Linked DNA regions of Homo sapiens: all the other regions are linked to region 1. The links come from fine-mapping of genetic effects on gene expression. A gene starts in region 1. Each other region holds a variant in brackets. All regions are shown on one strand. Distances are between the middles of the regions.

Region 1 (8,184 bases):
CACACAGTGTGCAAATATTCAACTCATAAAATTCTAGCAGATTGTTTTTTGTAAGACATTGAACCAATTTACACTTCCAGCTGCACCGCATAGACATTCTACTCGTTCCACATCCTTGTCAACACTTCATGTTAGCAATACGTTTTTTGCCAATGGATAGGAAATAAAATGGTATTTCATTATGGTTTTAGTTGTGTCTCCTCGATTACTAGAAAAGTGGGGCCGGTTTCACATGTTTATTGAACCCTCAAATTTCCTTTCCTGTAAAATGCCGACTTGCTTTCTTTGGCCTATTTTTCTATTGGTTGCTTTGTTTTCTTACTAATTTGTAGGAGTTATTTATATATTTATACATTTTATATTTTACATATTTTCATTGATGGGTGGTAAGTATCTTACCCAAGTTAGTTCATGGCTTGCCTTCTCACCTTTTTTTTTTTTTTACAAACAGCATCACGTGTACATAGCTTTCTCACTTTCTTTGTGGTCACTTTGATGAACAGAAATTATTGATTTTAATGCAGTCAAATTTATTCATCTTTTTCCTTGTGGTTAGGGCCTTTTATATCATTTCAGAAATCTTTCCCATCCTAAGGTTGAAGAGGCATTATTCTACAATTTCTTCTATTCATTTTAGAGTTTTGTATTTTACATTTTTGAATCCCCAGGAATTTAATCCCTGGTCTGATGTGAGGTAGGAATAACGATTTGTTCTGTTTTTGTTTTTCCTTCCCCACTGAGTTACAGTATATGTCTGCAAGGATCAAGTTTCTCTATATGTAAGGTCTACTTCTGGGCTTTCTGTTTTGTTCATCAGGTCTATCCGTTGGACCATAACCACACTTAAAGTAAGTCTTGCTACCTGGTACTAAAAGTTTCCTACCTTGATTCTCTCCAGCAGTGCCATGCCTATTCTTGGCCCTTTTTGTTCATATGCATTTTAGAAACAACTGCCAAGTTTCATGGAAAATTCTGTTGAGGTTCTTTTTTTTTTTTTTTTTTTTTGTGACGGAGTCTCGCTCTGTCACTCATGCTGGAGTGCAGTGGCGTGATCTCTGCTCACTGCAAGCTCCGCCTCCCAGGTTCACGCCATTCTCCTGTGTCAGCCTCCCAAGTAGCTGAGACTACAGGCACCTGCCACCGTGCTCAGTTAATTTTTTGTATTTTTAGTAGGGATGGGGTTTCACCATGTTAGCCAGGATGGTCTCAATGCCCTCATGATCCGCCCACCTCAGCCTCCCAAAGTGCTGGGATTACAGGTGTGAGCCACCGCGCCTGGCCTTCTGTTGAGGTTCTTAATGGACTTATATGAAATCTATAGATCCACTTGGGGAGAATTGAAATCAGGATATTGAGTGCTCTCACCCATGAACATGGTATTTTTAAAATCTGCATTGTTAATGTCTTCCAACATAGTTTTATACTTTCCTCAGTAGGGGTCTTACAAATCTTTCATTACATTGATTCCTATGTCCCTTATATTTGTTGTTATGATGTTTAATAATTATACCTTTGTTGCCAATGTGTAGAAGTATAATTTATTTTTGAGTATTGATCCAGCAAACTTGCCGGGCTGTCTTTCTTATTCCACAAAGTTCTCTGAGGAAATTTTTTTTTTTTTTTTTTTTTTTGAGACAGAGTCTCACTCTATCACCCAGGCTGGAGTACAATGGTACAATCTAGGCTCACTGCAACCTCCGCCTCTAGGGTTCAAGCGATTCTCCTGCTTCAGCCTCCCGAGTAGCTGGAATTACAGGCCCATGCCACTACACCTGGCTAATTTTTGTCTTTTTAGTACAGACGGGGTTTTGCCATGTTGGCCAGGCTGGTCTCGAACTCCTGACCTCAAGTGATCCACCTGCCTCAGCCTCCCAAAGTGCTGGGATTACAAGCGGGAGCTACAGTGCCCAGCCTTGTGCTTTGTAGACAAGCAATTCTGGTAACTGATTATGAGTAAATTTTGTTTCTTCCATTCAAATAATTAAAACTTTTATTTATTTTTCTTGTGCTATCTTACTGGGTAGGAGCTCTGGCACCATGGTGATAGCCACAAATCTTGTTTTGTTCTTGATTTAAAAGGAAATTCACCTTGAATATAGTTTAGCTGTAAATATTAGAAGAATACTCTTTGAGATTTAAGAAGTTCTCTATTCTTAGTTTTCAAAGTGTTTTTATTTTTAATCAAGGATTGATATTAAATTGTTTTATCAAATGTTTTTTCTGCATCTATTCATATGTTTGCATATCTGTTAATGTGGCGAATATTGCTAACTGATTTAGTCATGAGGTATTTTCTTATATCTATGCTACTGGATTCCATTTGCTAACATTTTGTTTAGGAATTTTAGATATATGTTTTTTGTAACATTGGCCTGTAATGGGAGTAAATTAGTTTGACAAAATCAAATTTTAAAATGCAATGTTTTTGGCCCAGAATGTATCCTATGGATGTACTCCATAGGATATGCAAAAGTATATGTACAAGCATATTTATTGTTATAATAGCAAGAAACTAAAGACAAATGTCCTTTAGTTGGAGACTTGGTATTTTAAAAAAGTACAGTATTTTGTTGCTATTACAAAGAATGAGGTAGATCTATTTGTGCTGATGTGTAAAGTTCTCCGAAATCTATAATTAGGGTAAAGCAGGTGGCAAGAGCAAGAATATATATTTATCTCTATCCCGTTTGTGAATTTTTTAAGTGATAGCGCTATGGCTGTGCATGTGCTATTTCTGGAAGCGCACTCAAAGCCTTGTAACACCAGTTCCCTCTGGAGAGCAGGGATGGCAGGAAGCTGTAGGACTACGTCTCTTTCTACACCTTTTTATAATTCATAAGCATGAGCATGTATTGGTCTCTGTACACCTGCCCCTGGGCTTGAGGAGGCCCTGCTGGCTGCAATGTCTCACTTTCACCTAACTGCACGGAGTCTCAGCCACTTCCCTCCAGCCCTCGAGGACTGTCACCCATCCTAGAATGGAGGCCTTGCATTAGGCCCGGGTTTGGCCAGAAGAATAGAGCAGTTGGAAATGTTAAGTTGACATAAATAGGAAGCTCTGTAACCTCGTGCAAGTGTTGTCTTGGAAACCAGAGCCTGGGCGGTCTCCATGGAAACCGTGCTCAGCCTTCTGCCTGAAGGAGTTACCACCCACTGGTGCTGGAGTGTTACTTATCAGGGACCTCAGAGCTCCAATAACTGCTTAGGGAATGATGATGGACTGGTCCCTGCCCACCCTGGCCATGTCAGGTGTGGGGCCCTGGGCACCTCCAGCTCTCTGCCTGGGAAAGAAAAAGAGCCCATTTCCATGGGACGTGCCCTCATGGGGAGGCACAGCAGACCACCCAAGGCAGCACATGCAGTGTCCCCGAAGTAAGGAGGGAGTCCTGTGTCCCGAGGTCCCGGGGATCTGGACTCTGCCATTGTCCCCTGGTGCATCTGTACAGCTGTGGTGGGCTAACATCATCTCTGGGCTCCAACTTGCCCTTCTGTAAAATGGGGAGTTTGGACCAAGTCATTCTGAAGGTCTTTTCCAGCTTTAATGACACGTGTTTTGCATGTGACCTGGCAGCACAGGGTTCAGAGGAGGGAGAGATCAGAGTGACTAGTGCAGGCTTCCTGGGGAACCATTTGAGCTTTGAAGGTGGGGAAGAGGAATGTCAGAGAGTGGGCAAAATACAACAGGAAAGGTCCAAATTCACCCTCTGAGGGCCCGGGGCACGGGGGCAGCCTGCTCTCCTCCTGGGGCCCTGTTCCCTGTGGGGACTGGAAGAGAGGCTTTGAGTCTAGGGCCTGGGGCAGCCAGGACTGACGGGGGTGCAGTCCTAGAAGGGTCGGCAGTCACGGTGGCCCACCATGGCATCTCCGTATCCTTGCTGCATGCTGCACCCACTCCAGCTGCCAGAGCACGGAGGCAGAGACGTGGGAGCCGATGAAGGTCGCACGCCAGCCTCCCACCTGTGAGACAAAGGGCCCTGTCACTGGAAGCCACGTCCAGCCTGGCCCCGCAGGAGCCAGGGCTCTGCGCCTAACGGAGGACTGATGGGAAAGGGAAGGCTGGCAGCAGTGAGGTAATGGGGTGGGGGGTGGGGGTGGGAGGCAGGGGGAGGTGGGGAGGACAGGGAGGGGAGGGAGGGAAGGGGAGGGACTTTAGCCAGCACGCTTGTCCCACACTGAGCGAGTGCCCACAGTGTTCAAGCAGTCAGTATGCCAGCAGTTTTTCATTGATTACTTTTGTTCGTGTCTCGCGTTATCTCTGGGGTGAGTATGAATTTCATAGCCACAAACTCAGGTGTCCAAAGTATCTTTATTGGTATCTTTATTTTTCTATAATAGTGTGTTTTGTGTAATAATCTAGTTTTCAAACCTTCCCTTAGTCTAGTGGCAGAATGTGTAATCTTGATATTTTCTAGGTAAACTCGGTCATCACTTCAGTTTGCCCTTTTCAAAGATATTAATTTTTGCCCTCCCTTCCCCACCAGGGGCCAATCATCTGAATCACGTTCCTGTATTCAGGATTTGCCCCTCCAAAACAGTTTTGATGGGAGACACCAGCCACCTACTATTATGCAGCCATGCACCACATAACGACGTTTCAGGCAACAATGACTGCACATACCACAGTGGTCCCGTAAAATTACAATGGAGCTGAAAAATTCCTATTGCCTAGTGACGTCACAGCCATTGTAAGGTCAGAGTGCAACACATCACTCATGTGTTTGTGTTGATGCTGCTGTAAACAAACCTACCGCACTGCCAGTCATATAAAAGTATAGCCCATACAATTATGTGTAGTACTTAATACTTAATAATAATAAACAACTATGTTGCTGGTTTACGTATTTACTACACTGTGTTTTTAATTGCTAATAAGAGTGTACTCTTTTTAGTTATTAAAAAAAAAGTTAACTGTAAACAGACTCAGCAGATCCTTCAGGAGGTTTCCAGAAGAAGGCATTGTCATCATAGGAGGTGACAGCTCCATGCATGCATTGCCTCTGAAGTCCTTCCAGTGGGACAGGATGTGGAGGTGGAGATGGTGATACTGATGGTCCTGACCCTATGTAGGCCTAGGCTCATGTGTGTGTTAGTGTCTAGTTTTTAACTAAAAAGTTTAAAAGTTAAAAAAAAAATTTTTAATAGAAAAAAAGGGGGACTGGGCGTGGTGTAATCCCAGCACTTTGGGAGGCCGAGGCAGGCGGATCACCTGAGGTCAGAAATTCGAGATCAGCCTGGCCGACATGGTGAAGCCCCGTCTCTACTAAAAACACAAAAATTAGCTGGGCGTGGTGGTGCGCACCTGTAATCCCAGCTACTTGGGGGGCTGAGGGAGGAGAATAGCTTGAACCCAGGAGGCGGATGTTGCAGTGAGCCGAGACACACCATTGCACTCCAGCTTGGGTGACAAGAGGGAGACTCTGCCTCAAAAAAAAAAAAAAAGAACAAAAGACTAAGGGTACAAAGAAAATACTTTGTGAAGCTCTATGTGTTGGTGTTTTATGCTAAGTATTATTATAGAAAAGTCCAAAGGTTTTTAAAAATTGAAAAGTTTATAAAGGAAAAAAAAGGTACAGTAAGCTAAGGTTACATTACTATTGAGGAAAGAAAAAATCTTCCGTAAATGTGGTGTAGCCTAAATGTACAGCGTTTACAAAGTCTACAGCAGTGGTCGGTAATGTCCCAGGCCTTCCCATTCACTCACCAACCACTCACTGACTCACCCAGAGCAACCTCCAGTCCTGCAAGCTCCATTCATGGTAAGCGCCTTACACAGGTGTACCATATTTTTATTTTTCCTACCATATTTTGAACGATATTTTTCTATGTTTAGATACACCATTGTGTTGCGATTGCCTACAGTATTCAGTACAGAAACATGCTGCACAGGCTTGTGGCCTAGGAGCAACAGGATAACCCGTATAGCCCAGGTGTGCAGTAGGCTATGCCATGTAGGCTAACATGTATAGCCCAGGTGTGCAGTAGGCTATGCCATGCGGGTTTGTGTAAGTGCACCCTACGATGTTCACACAATGAAACTGCCTGACAATGCATTTCTCAGGACATATCCCTGTTGTTAAGCTGAATCTGTTTTTCCCAGTGCCCCTTGGGGCTGGAGTCAAGCATGTGACCAGGCTCAGCCAATCAGATGTTTCCTCTCTGTATTAGTCCATGTTCACACTGCAATGAAGATTCTACCTGAGACTGGGTAATTTAGAAAGGAAAGAGGTTTAATTGACTCACGGTTCCACGTGGCTGGGGAGGCCTCTGGAAACTTACCATCGCGGCCGAAGGCGAAGGGGAAGCAAGGCACGTGTTAGTCTCACATGTGGCAGGAGAGAGAGAGAGAGCACGGCGGGGAAGTGCCAGACACTTATCAAACAACCAGAACTCATGAGTGACGACTCATGGGAGAAACTGCCCCCCGATCCAATCACCTCCCACCAGGCTCCTCCCTTGATGCGGGGATTACAATGTGAGATGAGATTTGGGTGGGGACAAAGAGCCATACCATATCACACCCAGACCATGCCATAGGGACAAGTGACTCAGGAAGGGGGACAGTGAAAAATGCATCCTGGTAGAGGGGACAACAGCAACACAGAGTCTCGTGGGCATCAGGAAGGTGGTGGCATCATCTCCACATTCTGGAGCCCGCGGTTCCCTTTGTGGTCTCCCAATTGCTGAAGTGGTTTCTCCAGCCCACCCAGTGACTCTGAGCCACCCAGTGTCCCGTCAATCAATTCCTTTCTTCCTAAATTCACCAGAATTGTTCCCAGTGTTTGTGTCACAGTTTTATTGAACACGGGAGCCTTGTGGGGTGTAATCCGAAAACAATTCTTTCTCCCACTACCTTTTCAAGCCTGGTCGGTGGGTTGGGTTCTCCTCTGACCTTGGATGAAATTGAAGGTAGGTTTCTTGGTTTTTCTGGTCCATCCAAGATAATAAAAATCCCTTGGGTAACTTTTATTCACACAAATCCAATTTCAGTAATTACAACATCTAACTATCAAAACAGTTGAAACTCCAGATGGCATTTGAAGTTAAAACCACTCCCTTGCCCCATCCCAGACCTGCCCACATGGGAAGCCTACAAGGCGCGTGGGGAGCTTGGCGGGTTTCTCCTCCATGCCCCTGCCTCATGCTTCTACTTTTCCTCCCCTTCACTAGGCTCCTCGGCGCCTCCAAGTTTGGGACAGTAGCGTGAGGGCTTGGCGTCGGGCGTCGGAGCAGGAGAGGTCACTAGTTGTCTTAGTCGGTGTGTGTTGCTGTAAAGGAACACCTGAGGCTGGGGAATTTATAAGGAAAACGGGCTTATTTGGTTCACGATTCTGCTGGCTGGAAGACTGGGCATCTAGTGAAAGCCTCGGGCTGCTTCCACTCGTGGCAGAAGGCGAACAGAGCTGGCGTGAGATCACACGCAGAGATCATGTGGAGAGAGAGGAAGCAAGAGAGACACGGGAGGCAAAGGTTCTTTTTAACAACCAGCTCTCGTGGGAACTAACGGAGTGAAACTCACTTGCCTCTGTAGGAGGGCAATAATCTATTCATGAGGGTTCCAACCTATGACCAGAACACCTCCCATTAGGCCCCACCTCCAACATTGATCCAAACTGTAGCACTAGCATCACCAGTTCACCCTCCCTCAGGTGGATGCTCCATGAGAGTCCCTGGTCCCCGTCCTCACCACTAGCTGCACCTCAATGCAGGCAAACTCTCCCTCAGCTTCATTTTCTTGGACTGGATCTAAGTAACTCAGACCAGCTTCTGAAACATTCACACACCCTTTGATGCTACAGAATCCAGCAGAATGGGTTATTTGCTGGCACACACCTCTTCTTGTCCTGTGCTCCAAGCAACAAGCAGGCAGCTCCAGCCACAGCCTCTCACTACTTGCTTCCCCAGGGGCTTGGCCCCCACCCAGTCCACAGGGCTCCCTTCCAAATTACTCCCAGGCCCCATGTCCAGGTCTCCCAGCAGTCTCAGTGAAGCCCCTCTCACTAGGCATAAGGCAGAGTGGTGGTGCGCCGGACTCTGTGATCATTCTCTCCTTAGAAATGTTCTCTCTGGCTGGCACTGTGGCTCCCCCCTGTAATCCCAGCAGTTTGGGAGGCCGAGGCACGAGGATCACTTGAGGCCAGGAGTTCAAGAACAGCCTGGGAAACACAGGCCATTTAAATTTTTTGT
Region 2 (8,184 bases), 260 kb before region 1:
CAAAAGATTATAAATCATTCTATGATAAAGACACATACACACGTATGTTTATTGTGGCACTATTCACAATAGCAAAGACTTGGAACCAACCCAAATGTCCATCAATGATAGACTGGATTAAGAAAATGTGGCACATATACACGATGGAATACTATGCAGCCGTAAAAAAGGATGAGTTCATGTCCCTTGCAGGGATATGGATGAAGCTGGAAACCATCATTCTAAGCAAACTATCACATGGACAGAAAACCAAACACCACATGTTCTCACTCATAGGTGGGAATTGAACAATGAGAATACGTGGACACAGGGCAGGGAACATCACACACTGGGGCTGGTCAGGGTTTGGGAGGCTCAGGGAGGGATAGCATTTGGAGAAATAACTAATGTAAATGACGAGTTGGTGGGTGCAGCAAACCAACATGGCACATGTATACCTTTGTAACAAACCTGCACATTGTGCACATGTACCCTAGAACTTAAAGTGAAAGAAAGAAAGAGAGAGAGAGAGGGAGAGAGAGAGGAAGGAAAAGGGAAGGGAAGGAAAAGGGAAAGGAAGGGAAGGAAAAGGGAAGGGAAGGGAAGGGAAGGAAAAGGGAAGGGAAGAGAAGGGACTTTTTTACAGTGAAGAAAAAATAATGTCACTGAAGGCTTTTTGTCATCTAAGCTGTGTAAAATTACTGAGGAATAGTGAGGAGTGGGGAACCAGGGAAGCAACCCTGCTGACAAATTTAACCCTACCCAGGACAAAACAAAAACCTGCAGGGTTTCTCCTACTGCACTGTGATGCTAGAAGATACTGAATAAAGAGATGCGCTTTAGGGTGAAGGGACATATTAAAGGGGTTTTGGTTACAGAAAGATAGGTATCTATGCTTAGTCTGGTGGGCCTGAAGAGAGATGAACTGGAGGAAAACATTTCATTTCTTACGAGGCAGCTGGTGGAGAAGAAAAGGAAGGAGCCCAGCCAGCCACCTGGCACTCTATGCAGAGACAACTGGGAAGATGCTCCCTGGCTCAGGACCCGACAGAACTCCCCTCCACTGCCTCGAACCTTCAGTATAAGTTTGGTACATGCAGCATTATGGGTAGTTTTCAACAAGGCAGTGTGGGAGACAGGCAGAACTTCCCAGGGGAGGAAAAGATAGAGGACTAAGGAGCAACAGGAAAAATATAAACCTTCCAAGAATATCCAGGGGCCTACTATTAGTGGAATAATGGCTCAAGCTAATGATTATTCATTCACCCTTTTATTCAACCAATATTAACTGAGTGCCACCTACATGCTAAGTACAGTCCAGCCAATGTGCACCAGTGCAGGAAAACCAATTGTGCACATTCCTTCCCAACTCCACGTTTAGTCATGTCATGTTGGTAGTTTGAAGTCAGCCATGGTAGGAATATTGGCACCATAGTAATTGGCAAATGCTACAAATCAGAACTTTTTTCCCCTCAGAGAGTTGGTTTGCCACTAACCCCTGGCCAGCCACTCTTTTGGATACTGAGAAAAGAGCAATGAGCAAAACAGACAAGGTTATAACCCTAGAAGAGCATATGTTATAGAAGGGAAAGATCAAAGAATTGATTGATTGATTGATTGATTGATTCACAAGCTATTTTCGAATGGTGAATAGGGCTAGGAAGACAAGAAAAAGGGGTGACTGATAGGCTGCAGAGGTTGGGAAGATCTCTTTAAGGAGGTAACACTTGCCTGGATGCAGTGGCTCATGCCTGTAATCTCAGCACTTGGGGAGGCCAAGGTGGGAGGATCGCTTCAGTCCAGGAATTTGAGACCAGCCTGGGTAACATAGCGAGACCCCGTCTCTATAAAAAAAAAAAAAAATGTTTTTCAATTAGCCAGGCATGGTAGTGTGTACCTGTAGTTCCAGCTACTCGGGAGGCTAAGGTAAGAGTATCACTTAAGCCCAGGAATTCAAGGCTGCAGTGAGCTATGATTGTGCCACTGCACTCCAGCCTGAGTGACAGAGTGAGATAGATAGATAGATAGATAGATAGATAGATAGATAGATAGATAGATAGATAGATAGATAGATAGAATGGGTGCAGTGGCTCACACCTGTAATCCCAGCACTCTGGGAGGCCAAGGCAGGCAGATCACCTAAGATCAGGAGTTCAAGACCAGCTTGGCCAACATGGTAAAACCCCGTCTCTACTAAAAATACAAAAAACATTATCTGGGCGTGGTGGCACACACCTGAAATCTCCGCTACTCAGGAGGCTTAGGTAGGAGAATAGTTTGAACCTGGGAGGCAGAGGTTGCAGTGAGCCAAGACTGCGCCACTGCACTCCACCCTGGGCAACAGAGTGAGACTCCATCTCAATAAATAAATAAATAAATAACAGAGGTAAGCAACACTTGAGCAGTGAAATGAATTTTTTAAAAGAAAATCATCCCAGCAGTTTGGGGTTATCTGTAGAGCAGGCAGCTCTTTGTAGCATGCTGTTATAGTCTCCCATCGTAAAAACACCTTCCGGCCGGGTGAGGTGGCTCACGCCTGTAATCCCAGCACTTTGGGAGGCCAAGGCGGGCAGATCACGAGGTCAAGAGCTCAAGACTATCCTGGCCAACATGGTGAAACCTCGTCTCTACTAAAAATACAAAAATTAGCTGGGCGTGGTGGCGCATGCCTATAGTCCCAGCTACTCAGGAGGCTGAAGCAGGAGAATCGCTTGAACCCGGGAGGCGGAACCTGCAGTGAGCCGAGATGCACTCCACTGCACTCCAGCCTGGCGACAGAGCAAGACTCCGTCTCAAAAAAAAAACCTTCCCCAGCCCCTCCCTCTTTTCTCTCCTTGCCTTTATAGCCAGCTGCTCCCAAAAGAGGCCTCTGTTTATTTCCTCCAATTCCTCCTCTCCCTGCTTGCTCCCACCACTCACCAATACCACTCTTGTCAAGGTCACGAGCAAACTTCATATTGCTGAGTCCTGTGGTTGACTTTCATCCTTTATCTGACTGAAGCTCTTGGCAGCACTTGACAGAACCAGCCACTCCCTCCTCCTCACATATTGTTTGCATTTGGCTTCCAGGACGTCACCCCTCCTGAATTCCTCCCATCTCACCAGCTGGGCTTTTTTTTTCTTCAGTCTCTTTTGCTGGTTCTTCTCTAAACCCCTGACCTCTAAATGCGGAGGTGTCCCGGCCTCACTTTTTGGACCTCTTCCCTTTCCTGACTATACTTCTTTTTCAGAGACCTCATCCAGCCTCACAGCTGTAGGTTCCAGCTCCGTGCTGATGAGTCTCAAACCCACGTCAGCTGGCCAGACCGCTCACCTGAACATCCACTGCTTACTTAACATCTCCACCTGGAGCCAGAGTGATCCTTTAAAGTGTGATTTGTATCTCATCACTCCTTTGCTTCAAATCCTCCAATGGCAACACAGTGAGGCAAAGATAGTCTTTTTAACAAATGGTGCTGGAACAATGGTATATCCATGATATAGTCTGGCTCTGTGTGCCCACCCAGATCTCACCTTGAATTGTAATAATCCCCATGTGTCAAGGGTGGGAGCAGGTGGAGGTAATCAAATGACGGGGGAGGTTTCCTCCATGCTGTTCTCCTGATAATGAGTGAGTCTCACAAGATCTGATGGTTTTATAAGCCTCTGGCATTTCTCCTGCTCGCACTCACTCCATCTTGCTGCCCTGTGAAAAAAGTGTCTGCTTCTCCTTTGCCTTCCACCATGATTATAAGTTTCCTGAGGCTTCCCCAGCAATGAGAAACTATGAGTCAATGAAACCTCTTTCCTTTATCAATTATCCAGTCTCAGGTATTTCCTCATAGCAGTGTGAGAACAGAATAATACAATCCACTTACAAAAAATGAATCCAGACACAGATCTTACAGCCTTCACAAAAATTAGCTTGAAATAGATCACAGCCCTAAACGGAAAACGGAACACTGTAAAACTTCTTCCTATGATTTAGGTGTTTGCACCCTCCAAAATTCCTGTTGAAACTGAATCCCCAATGTGGCAGTATTGGGGCCTTTAAGAGGTGATTGTGTCATGAAGGTTCTGCTCTCATGAATGAATTAATCCATTCATGGATTAATGGATTAAAGGGTTAATGGATTAATGTGTTACTATGAGAATGAGACTGGTGGCTTTAAAAGGAGAGGAGAGACTTG[A/T]TCTAGCACATTCAGGCCCCTCACCATGTGATGCTGTGCACCACCTTGGGACTCTATGGAGAGTCCCCACAGCAAGAAGGCCCTCACCAGATGCAACCCTTCAGGTTATGACTTCTCAGCCTCTATAACTGTAAGAAATACATTCCTTTTCTTTATACATTTCCCAGTTTTAGTTATCCAGTTATGAGCAACAGAAAGTGAACTAAGACACTCCTAGAAGATAGGAGAAAATCTAGATGACCTAGGGTTTGGCAATTATTTTTTTAGATATATCACAAAAGGCACAATTCATAAAAGAAATAATTGATAAGCTGGATTTCACTAAAATTAAAAGTTTCTGCTCTGTGAAAAACACTGTCAAGAGAATAAAAACAGAAGCCACAGACTGGGAGAAAATATTTGCAAAAGACAGATCTGATAAAGGACTGTTTCCAAACTTTATATATATATATATATACACACACACATACACACATATATATATGTACATATATATACATATATACACACACATATATACATATATACATATATATACACATATATACATATATTCACATATATATGCACATATATACACATATATACATATATACACATATACACATATATACACATATACACATATATACATATATACACATATATACACATATACACATATATACACATATATACATATATATACGTATATATACACACACATATATATATATATATATTTTTTTTTTTTTGAAATGGAGTTTTGCTCTTTTTGCCCAGGCTGGAGTGCAATGGCGCAATCTTGGCTCACTGCAACCTCTGCCTCCTGGGCTTAAGCAATTCTCGTGCCTCAGCCTCCCATGTAGCTGGGACTACAGGTGCGTGCCACCACACCTGACTAATTTTTTTTTATTTTTAGTAGAGACGGGGTTTCACCATGTTGGCCAGGCTGATCTTGAACTCATGACCTCAGGTGATCTACCCGCCTCGGCCTATCAAAGTGCTGGGATTACAGGCATGAGCCACTGTCCCTGGCTCAAAATTTATATATTTTATATAGAACCCAATTGAAAAATGAGCCAAAGACTTTAGCAGACACCTCACCAAAGAAGAGGTGGCAAATAAGTATACAAAAATGGGCTCACATCATATGTCATCAGGAAAATGCAAATTAAAACCATGAGACACCTTTATACAGCTATTAGAATAACCCAAATCCAGAACACTGACAACACCAAATGCAGGCAAGGGAGTGGAGCAATAGGAACTCTCATTCATTACTCGTGGAAATGCAAAATAGTACTATTGCCTTGGAAGACAGTTTGGTGGTTTCTAAACATACTAAACATAGTCTTTTACACAAAACTAAACTTACTCTTAACATAAAATCTAGCAATCATGCTCCTTGGTATTTACCCAAAGGAGTTGAAGACTTATGTCTACACAAAAGTCTGCACACCAATATTTATAGCAGCTTTATTCATAACTGCCAAAACTTGGAAGCAAACAAGATGTCCTTCAGTAGGTAAATGGGTAAATAAACTGTGGTACATCCAGACACTAAAATACTATTCAGAGCTTAAAAACAAACTGTCAAGCCATGAAAAGACAAGGAGGAAACTTAAATGCATATCACCAAGCGAAAGAAGCCAATCTGAAAAGGCCATGTACTGCATGATTCCAACTATATGACATTCTGAAAAAGGCAACACATGGAGACAGTGAAAATATCAACAGTGGCCGGGCACGGTGGCTCACGCCTGTAATCCCAGCACTTTGGGAGTCTGAGGCAGGTGGATCACCTGAGGTCAGGAGCTTAAGACCAGCCTGGTCAACATGGTGAAACCCCATCTCTACTAAAAACACAAAAAGTAACTAGGGTGGTGTTGGGTGCCTGTAATCCCAGCTACTCAGGAGGCTGAGGTAGGAGAATTGCTTGAACTCGGGAGGCGGAGGTTGCAGTGAGCCGAGATCGTGCCACTCTGCTCCGGCCTGGGCAATAGAGCAAGACTCAGTCTCAAAAAACAAAAACAAACAAACAAAAAGATTAATGCTTACCAAAGTTTAGACAGGAGAGAGAGATAAAGAGTTGGGGCCCAGAGGATTTGCAGGACAGTGAAACTAGTCTGTATGATACTATATAGTGGATACATGTTATCGTACATTTGTCTAAGCCCATAAAATGTACACCAAGAGTAAACCCTAATTTAAAACTATGGACTCTAGGTGATTATGATTATCATTGTAGGTTCGTCACTTCTAACAAATATACCCCCTAGTGGAGGATATTGACAGTGGGGGAGGTTGTACATGTGTGAGGCCATGGGGTATATGAAATATCTCTGTACATTCTGCTCAATTTTTCTGTGAACCTAAAACTGCTCTAAAAACTAAAGTTTATTTGGCCCGGTGTGGTGGCTCATGCCTGTAATCCCAGCACTTTGGGAGACCGAGTCAAGTGGATCATTTGAGGTCAGGAGTTCAAGACCAGGCTGGCCAACATCATGAGACCCTGTCTCTACTAAAAATACAAAAATTAGCTGGGCGTGGTTGCATGTGCCTGTAATCCCAGCTACTAGGAAGACTGAAGCATGAGAATCACTTGAACCAAGGAGGTGGAGGTTGCAGTTAGCCAAGATCGCACCACTGCACTCCAGCCTGGGTGTCAGAGTGAGACTCTGTCTTAAATAAATTAATAAATTAAATTTTAAAATAAAAAGTCTATTAAGGCATTAAAAAAAAAATCCTCTAACAGCTCCCACCTTGCTCAAAGTCAACACCAAAGTCATCCAAATGATCTACAAGGCCCCCTCCCTGTACTTCTGTGACCCGCTCTGGATTCATTGAAGACCTGCTTCATTGTAAGAGCGTTAGGAGGAGTGGGAGACTAAGGCTGGCCTAGTTCAGTTTCCCCGCTCCCCAGACAGGCCTGAGCAAGGGCTTGGGAGCCAGGCACTTATGTGAAAGACAAATTCAGGACCCACATATGATGGGAGTAGGAGAAAAGCCATCAGACGGCCCATTTGTGAGGGGGTGGACACGTGGGGTTCCTCCCACCGGGAACCCTCTGGGTAAGCATCTAGAACCCACCTGTGGCGGTGGGGGGCGGGGGGTGCAGGCTGCTGAGCCTCTTTGTGCTCTCTCCCATCCTTCCCTGGTTGGTGGTTGTTCCGGGGGCCATAACTGTTGGGAGTTTCTCTTTCTCCAGCTTGCAGTCCTGCAAGCCCCCATGGCATCTGAGAAAACTCCCAGGCACAGAAGGGTTGAGCCAGGCACTTGGGAAGGATGTTGCCGGATGTTGGAGACCTCCACAGCCTCTGGTGGGGAACTGCCCAAGGTCCAAGCCAGGGGGAGGGCCTATCCCGCCTCTGATGGCTGGAGGCTCTGGATATCACCAAAGATTTGAAAATTTGACTGTGTCTACAGCCATTCCACCCTGACAGAGTGAAAGTACTGCATATATTTAATAGTCTTAAGGATAAATACAGAGAGTAGTTAAAAGTATAAACAAATCAATGAGAATGCTAAACACTAGATTCAGAAATATTGTTGCCACTGAAAGAAGCGGCAGGAGATGTGGTCTAGGAAGCCTCAGTTGTATTAGTAATTCTTTTTTTTTTTTTGAGATGGAGTCTTGCTCTGTCGCCCAGGCTGAAGTGCAATGGCACGACCTCGGCTCACTGTAACCTCCGCCTCCTGGGCTCGAGCAATTCTCCTGTCTCAGCTTCCCAAGTAGCTGGGACTACAGGCACACGCCATGATATCCAGCTAATTTTTGTATTTTTAGTAGAGACGGGATTTCACCATATTGGTCAGGCTGGTCTCGAACTCCTGGCCTCAGGTGATCCACCCACCTCAGCCTCCCGAAGTGCTGGGATTACAGGCGTGAGCCACCGCACCCAGCCATTAATGTTTATTTTTTTAAGTGGCTGTTCATTATATTTTTCTCTATACATTTTTATATATTTGATGTATTACATTGTTATTTTATTATTGTTGTTATTATTATTATTTGAGACAGAGTCTCACTCTGCTGCCCACATTGAGCGCAGTG
Region 3 (8,184 bases), 43 kb after region 1:
GGCACAGGGCAGTCCTGCCCCCAGCGAGGCCCCCCTACTGGGCCACCAGCCCAATCTAAGCCAAAGGCTGGCTACTGGGCAAGGGGGGGCAGCCAGGCCCGCACCCTGGGTGCGGGAGGAGGCCAGGAGCCTGCTGGGACAGTAGCAGGGAGGAAACACACCGGTGTCTGGCACCCACCTCCATACCCAGAGCCTGCAATGTGAGGCCCCAGGAAGGCATCCACACTGAGTGGCCTGCAGGGAGCAGTGTCTCTGCTCAGCCCCTTCTCAAAGGGAGCCTTGTCTACTCCCATTCTGGCTACCTTCTTTTTTTTTTTTTTTTTTTTTTTTTGATACAGAGTCTCGCTCTGTTGCCCAGGCTGCAGTGCAGTGGCACTATCTTGGCTCACTGCAACCTCCACTTCCCGGGTTCAAGTGATTCTCCTGCCTCAGCCTCCTGAGTAGCTGGGATTACAGGCTTGTGCCACCAGGCCCGACTAACTTTTTTCGTATTTTTAGTAGAGACAAGGTTTCACCATGTTGGTCAGGCTGGTCTTGAACTCCCGACCTCGTGATTCACCCACCTCGGCCTCCCAAAGTGTTAGGATTACAGATGTGAGCCACCGCTCCCGGCCCTGGCTACCTTCTTTTAAGAAATGAATATTTCTACTTTATTGCTGTTGCAATATTAAAATTTTTAAATTTTTAAATTTTTGAAAACATGCACATGATTCAAATACATATGTAAACACATATAGGAAAATATCTGTCCCACTCCTAAATCCAGCTCTCACCTACCCCCCAGGGCACCACTGTTAAGTTTCTTCCAGAGTTTCTGTGCCCGCCCGTGTACACCTGAGCTCTTATTTTCTCCCTCTTTTGACACAGAAGCTAGAGACCACACGAGCTGCTCTGCAGTAGAAGGCATTGTCCACCTCCCTCTCCTGTGGGTATCCCTTGGATACCTTGGGGGATATCCAAGGTATATGGGGGATCCCTTGCCAAGATACGTCTCCAGAGAGACTCAAAGGTTTGAGCTCCTAAGAGCAAGGCTAGGCAGGGACTCGCCCAAGGCCCCGTCCTAAGGCTCAGGCCTGTCCCTCGAGCTTTTCGCCTCCCCTTGCCACAGGCCTGGGGAGTCATAAATAGGAAGACCTTTCTCAGAAAATTTCCCTTAAGCCTCCTGAAACTTCTCCCCCTAGTCCTGCCCACCCTCTCACCATCCAGAATCACTTGGAGGTTTTGGGAGCCTGGGCAGGTCCCTGCCTGTCTTCCAGGCTGGGAGCCCCGAGTTGGGGGGTTTGGGGGCACACACCTTCGACTTCACCAGTGGAGCAGCTTCGGAGCTTCAGGAACCAGCTTCTTCTAGGGCAAGGAACAAGTGAATCTGACTGTGTTTATCAAAGAGCGGGTCCAGGATAGCTGGGCGCTCACCACATCCTCCCCTGACGCTGGTGAAATTCGCTCCTTCAGCAGCCAGAGGCCTGGCCCTGCCCTCGTGGGGCATCCTTTCCCTCCAAGGGGGGAAACCTGCCCACCAGGGGGTTTGCAGGGTGACCACTTGGCCCAGAGCTGTGCAAGAAGTGCTCCCAAGCCTGCCCCAGAGAGCTGGTCAGGGAACAGGGGCAGGGGCAAGAGCTGAACCCTAAGAGACACGGGGAGGGAGGAGGATGCTGGAGGAGGGCAGCCCAGGTGCAGGCACAGGCAGGAGGGGCACGGGGTTGGTGAGGGCCCGGGCACCCTCTGCACCAGGGTAAGGGGGGAATGGCAGGAGCCGAGGCTGGAAGCTGGCCAGGCAGGAACCAGGGGCACGGGCCGCCCCGGGGTCCCAGGGAACACACGCTTGGCACAGGGGCAGCATGTGACAGACCCACTGGGGCAGCAGGGGTTGGGTTGGGATGAGGGCACCAGCAGCAACAAGAAGGAATGAGGGCAGGAGTGGGGGCGTCAGAGTGTCTGAAAGAAGGATCCAGGGCATCTGAGGCAGCCGGACTCTGAAGATAGCCTCAGCAGGTCTCTGGCCGCCACTCCCCACAAAGCAGCTCTGTCAGCTTGGGCTGGTTGCCTAACCTCTCTGAGCCCATTTCCCCAGCCGCAAATTGGAGTTACACATCCATTCAATCAAAAAATGTTTGTGGATCATCTCCTAGGGACCAGGCAGTGGTGGTGAAGACAGATGACAGTACCTGTCTCAGAAAACGTTGTTTTAGGAGTCGGCATGGTAACAGGGGTAAGTGTACCCAGGAAGTGCCTGGTACTCAAGCAGTGACTGAGGCCCCCATTCCTCGTTGATTTATGCCTGCCTTTGTCTCCCCTGCTGGGTCTATTTGAAGGAAAAGAAAAAAAAAGGAGGAACATTGATAATGAGACCCTCATGATCCAAGGAAAAGGGGTCCTAAAAATCAGAGGAAGCCCCAACAGAGAGAGGAAGGCAGGGGAACTCAGGAAGAAGAGGCAAAGAGAGGAAGATGAGCAGCACCTGCCCCCACCCTCTGCTCCAACCCTCCAGGTGCGGCCTGGAGACAGACTCAAAGGGTTGAGCTCCAAGAGCTGGGCTAGGCAGGGACTTGCCCCAGGCCCCATCCTATGGCTCCCCATCTGGCCTCTCCCCTCCCATTCTGCCGGGAACACTTCTGTTCCCAAGCCCCACTTCTTTATTTTATTTTATTTTTTGTAAAAATAGAGATGGGGTTTTGCCATGTTGCCCAGGCTGGTCTCGGACTCCTGGACTCAAGCGATCCCCCACCTCGGCCTCCCAAAGTGCTGGGATTACTGGTGTGAACCACTGCATCCGGCCACCAAGCCCCACTTAAACATTGAGCCCGGATGACTCCCCTGCACGGTCAGCTGGGTGCTATACCACACGAAGCCCGTTCCTGGAGCCTTTGCCAAGTCCCTGAGGACTGACACCCTGCCCCCTAGGTGCTCACAAAGACAGGAAGGTGCGTGCCCCCAAGCCCCCCAACTCGGGGCCCTGATAATCCCCCTTAGCAATTGAAGATGTCTCCTTGAAAGTGGGCCCATGGTGGCTGAGGTCAGTGATGCTTAATGTCAAGGCAGAAGGGAGTAAAACACGCAAGGGGGCAGCAACTGTCCAGAATGCAGCCTTCCCCTCCCATGTCACCCCACGTGCCCCTCTGTCACTCACTGGAAATGTAACATCAAGGTTACAGGAGAAGGTTGCAGATGCTCAGATATCTGTGCCTTCTGTTCTTGTCATGATCCAGCCAATTCTTTTAGAGCCACCAAGCTTCTCCCTGCAGTCATCCTGCCCATGGCTGTTGATGGCCCTGATGGGGCTTGGAGCCCCCAGAATGTGCAGAAGTTGGACAAAGGTGGTCTTCAAATGCAATGGTTGTCTTATCACCGAAAGCCCACGGCATCCAGAGGAGGCCCTTTACTACGAAGTTTACAGAGAGCACAGGTCTCTGTACGTCCCAAGTTTCCCCTGCTGCCAAATGCAGGGGAGGAGAGAATTCTGGAAGCCCACCCTGTCCCATGGCTCCCCTGGCACATGGAGCCACTGAATGTCTTGTGAACATTAAACAAATGCTTCCAAGTGAACACCTCTGGCTCTGTCTCATCCAGGTCCTCCTGAGGCCCTCCTGAGGTTTGGCGCTCAAGGGAGCAGAGTCCTGGGCTAAACCCTGGCAACAGCTTCCCAGCATTCCCTCCACTCCCGCCGGGCAGCCAGGACCCCCCCGCCTCCCACCTGGGCCTTGGGGCCAGGAGTCAAGGAATGAGGGGATTCTGCTCACCTCTGAGTACCCCCTCTGGCCTCCCAGCAGCTCCCTGTCCAGGCCACCAGGTCACAGCTACTGAGCTACACTTGTTTATTTCTCAGGGACACGGGGATAGGAGTGTGAGCAGATGGTGGACCCTTTTGAAATACTTATTTTCTTTTATGTTTCCTGTTGCATAAAGTGTACTATTTCCTTTGCCCACATGCCCATCAGGAGCCTAATATTCTGTTTTCCACTTTAGCTATTGAATTCCTATTCTTCTTACGTGTTGAGTCTTTTCTCCCTACTTCACCCCTTCCCACCTCCCCTACACACAGACATTTTTATCTTTGGGTTTTTTGTTTTGTTTTTCTTTTCTTTCTTTCTTTTTTTTTTTTTTAGACAGAGTCTCACTTAGGCTGGGGTGCAGTGGCATGATCTCAGCTCACTGCAACCTTCGTTTCCTGGGCTAAAGCGATCCTCCCACCTCAGCCTCTCAACTTCCCAGGACTGCAGACACGTGCCACCACGCCTGGCTAATTTTTGTACTTTTGGTACAAAATACAAAGGCATTGAGAGGTTTTGCCATGTTTCCCAG[G/C]CTGGTCTCCAAGTCCTGAGCTCAAGCAATCCACCCACCTCAGCCTCCCAAAATGTTGGAATTACAGGCTTAAGCCACTGCGCCTGGCTCAGTTTTATCTTTGTTTTGCGGCATGGAAATTGTTAATTGTGTCGTTCGTCTCCATGAATTATCCTGTAGCACTTTAATAATGAACCTATCTTCACCCTTCTGTAGTTTGAGTAACTAGGACATTCATTTCCTTCCTGAAAGTCTTTTATTTAATTCTGATTTTTAAAAAGTATATATTGGGGTGGAAGGTAAAAAAATCTTCTCCAATACTGAGGGGCTGACAGGTGAAGGCTATGGGGAGGTCCCCACCTGCCCTACCTACCCGCCACTCCCCCGGGAACTGTGCCAGCACTCACACCCTATTCTCCTGCAAAACGCTTTGTCCTGAGAGCCTTACCCCACATGCAGAGCTACCACCTCTGCTCTTTAATGCCATCAAATATCTTCCAGGGCACACCACACTCCAGTACCTGGCTCAGTCTTCATCTCCACCCCAAGTCCTCCCGACTCTTCAAGGAGACGTCATTGCCAATGGTGACAGCTCCCTCCAACACTGACCCTGCCTGTCCTGAGGACCACGCCGAGGGCAGTACACTTTACAAATTAAGTCTGTTCATTCTCCAAACACCCTGGGAGGTGCAAACGATCAACAGCCTTGTTGACAGAGGAAGAAATTGAAGCACAGAGGGCTGGAGCCCTGTGCCCAAATGTGCACCACGAGCTTGATGCAGAGCTGGGATTGGGCCTAGGAGATGGCACCTAGAGAGGCCGATTTCTACCTGTCCCACCTTGCTGAACCCTCACCAACCCCATGAGGCAGGACCCACAGGCACTCCCACTTTACAGGGTGGAAATGGAGGCATTGAGAGGTTTTGGCAACTCGCCTGATAAGCCCACTTGTTAAGACGCTGAGCAGGAACACAGTGCACCTGCTGCTGCCACAGGCCCCGACCGCTGCACCCACGAGGGCCCCACTTCACAGTCTGGCCTCACGGTGCGACCTCCTGCTGCTCTCACCCCTGCCCATTAGCCCCATCCCCATGAGAGCATGCGGGGCCCCTCTGCTCCCCTTCCTTCCACACCCTGAGTGGTGCCCCACTCCACTGCCCGGGCCACCCCTGGCCCAGTCCATTCGCCTGCTTGCCCACTCCACCCCAGCCCCTTTAGCCCATGGACAATGCTCCTGGAGCCAAAGGGAACCATCCAAATGGCAGTCTCAGGGCACCAGCACCCCTCACCCCTTCCCTGGTGGTAGGGCAGCCCCACCCCAGCCCGGTCCCGTCGAGGCCACTCCACACCTCAAGGCCTCACCTCCAGCTCCTCACCATCCCCAGACAGCCTGGCCTCCAACTTCACAGAAAAAAATCTCGGTTCTGAGGCGTGAAGCTCCAGCTCCTTGTCCTACAAACCAGCCGCGGTCTGCACCCAACCAAGTGACAAAGGTACTCTGCTGCTTAGAGAAACACCTCCACGCCACCAGCCCGCCGACCTTCTCTGGGCGCCTGCCCGTCAGGTGGTTGCAGCTGTTTGTGGGAGGCATCCAGAGGGCAGGAAACATGTTAGAGGAATTCACAAGATTAAAAACTCATTCCCTACATAATTGGTGCTGAAGGCAGAAAATTACCACCGGCTGGATGGATATTGTTTCTATCATCTAAGGTGACTAGAAGTCTTAATTTGTGCATTATATCATTTTGAAATTACAGAGATTTCTGTAAAGGTACATTGCATTCTGTTACATAATGCACATAACGTTACATGAAGGGGAAGCTACTATGGAAGGAAAGTCTTCAGTGTTCATTAAAATAGTTGGATCTACACCTCTTCTAAATGAAGACAGCATGGCTGTGAATGTTTATATGATAAAGGTACATAAAGCTCCGAACAGAAGGACATGTTCATTACAAGGACAGTCTCCACGTGGGGCTCGAAACTGGCCAGGTCCTGCCTCTTCCAGCTGCCCAGCTGTGCCTGCATGAGCCCCAATCTCTTGCTTCGTGTCTGGCCGTCATCCTAAACCAGGCCTCTCTCCCACTCTTGCACCACCTCCTCGCTTCCTGTGACAAGGCACACCCTGTTCTAGCCCAGGCTCGGCCTGGGACTGCCTCCATCAGGGCCTCAGTCTGCACATCCCTGTAGCTGTGCTACAGGCAGGACTGCTGCTCTCTCTCTCTCTCTCTTGCATGCGCTCGCTCTCTCTAATTCTCTACATGTGAGGTCACAAGGACAAATCCTAAGGGAACAGAAGCCGGACTGAACTCTGACTTCAGAGCCCCAGGATCGTGCTCTCACGCTGATCTTTGGCAACGATGAAGGGAAAATGGGTCTGCTTTCACCCGGCTGCTTCCAGCCCACTCCTTTCCCTGCCCCTTCCTGCCTCTTCCCCCTTCCCTGCTACCCTCCATCACTGCCTTCTGGTCCTGTGCCCTGTCGCCTCCTGTGGGCCTAGCCAAGCCCCTGAAGTCCCCTGCCCCGCCCAGCTCCCCCCTTCCCTCCGCCCTCTCTGCCTGGCCTGCCTCTCTGCTCTTCACTCTTCCTGTGCTCTTGACTTCCCTTCTGGCCTTTCTCTGGCCTCCAGCCACCTGGGCAGACTGCTCCACTGCCCCATCTCCCTCCCATCCGTCCACCGCATCCTCCACCTGCCCTCCGTTGGCCCTTCCTGCAAACCGTCTCCTGGGACCCTGATGTCCCTGCTAGGGGAAGTCAGGAACCTACTGAACACACGGGGCAGCCCATGGTGTGCAGCTGCTGGGCAGCCTGGCAGGCCCTCCAGGAAGCCCCCATCTCCAAGGGAGCTCTCAGCCACCTGGGGACTGGCCTGTGGCAGTGGGTGGCTGTCCCTCCTCAGGTTGGTCCACAGGCCAAAGAAACTAGAGCAACCTCCTTTCATGTCCACCCTCAGTCCCCTTAGGCTTTCAGAGCGGCCATAGAGGTGGTGGCTGGACTCAGGGGACTCAGGGCCTCTCTCCTTACAGGGCTTGCCTCTTATCCAGGAGCAGCAGCCCCTGCGCCGGCAGCATTCCCCACTCCTGGAAGTCAGCGTCTCCAGGAGGCAGGGCGGGGGCTCCCTTGGCAGGGCAAAGGCTGCCTGGGTGGGGGCAGTGACAGCAGCGGGATGAAGCTCTGCTGTGGGGGTGGGAGATGCAGGATGCAGGGGATGTGTCCGCTAGGAGAGGCATTACCAGGTCTTCCCCAAGAGCTCAGCCTCTGAAGTTCTTGACTTCAGTTTCTGAGGCCACATCTGCAGTCACCCCAAAGCTTCCGGTGACCACCCCAGAGGTGCTGGGTCAGGCTGTGGTCACTTCCTGCCTCCCTCTCCTCGCCTCTATTGTCACCTGGGCTCAGGGTGCTTTCCTTGCCCACCTTTTCAACCCTCCTTTCCAGTGCTAATAGACTGGACTGTCCCCCAGGGGCACTGGCCTAGGTATATGGGCCGCTTATTTGGAGAGACCCCTCCCTGCACTGGCTGTTTCTCCACCTGCCCCTACAACACAAAAGGCTGACAGAATATGGTGATTTCTAACCCAGCCCTGGCCCTGGAATCACAAAACCTAGGTCTGCATCAGGGCCAGCACCTCTCTGCACCTCTCTCACCAAAAGCTGTGGAACGAGCACCGAGTACTGATTCCAGGTTTCTGGTCCCCGGCCTCTCTCCGACCCCAGCACAGCTGCTCTTTCTGCCCCTCAGGGATGGGGGTTAGTTCCCAGGACCAAATGTGAGATGACCACCTCTGTGAACAGCACAAGTATCCACTGAAAGCCCCAACCCTGAGCTCTTGGTCCCAGGGGAAGGAGGACACAGGTCAGAAGAACCAGGGACAGCCAGCCTGACCCAGCCCAAGTGCTTAGCAAAAT

Alleles and levels. Positions count from the first base shown, and alleles are read on the strand shown. Sizes are in standard deviations (SD) of each study's normalised expression. Not every link is listed here.
For the expression in prefrontal cortex of the gene that starts at base 3,647 in region 1, C is the low allele of the variant in region 3 and G is the other (moderate effect, 0.40 SD a copy in CommonMind).

What was found. PIP is the estimated chance that this variant, and not a neighbour inherited with it, causes the effect.
Region 2: its variant is the best candidate, but not a certain one, in a credible set for the expression of GCSIR in pituitary (GTEx, PIP 0.52).
Region 3: its variant is the best candidate, but not a certain one, in a credible set for the expression of GCSIR in prefrontal cortex (CommonMind, PIP 0.87).

What each region holds. Positions count from the first base shown.
Region 1 is chr2:230,882,900-230,891,083 of GRCh38, forward strand. It overlaps GCSIR (GPR55 cis regulatory suppressor of immune response RNA), which reads left to right and starts at 3,647. Exons shown (of 4, transcript NR_038238.1): 1 at 3,647-4,070. RefSeq lists an enhancer at 3,010-3,079.
Region 2 is chr2:230,625,247-230,633,430 of GRCh38, forward strand. No RefSeq gene overlaps it. Among named protein-coding and RNA genes, the nearest start is that of LINC01907, 71 kb to the right of the region's middle. The variant A/T (reference allele first, on the strand shown) is at 4,149.
Region 3 is chr2:230,926,377-230,934,560 of GRCh38, forward strand. It overlaps a transcript of GPR55 not described here. Among named protein-coding and RNA genes, the nearest start is that of GPR55, 5.2 kb to the left of the region's middle. RefSeq lists silencers at 123-302, 3,031-3,160. The variant G/C (reference allele first, on the strand shown) is at 4,300.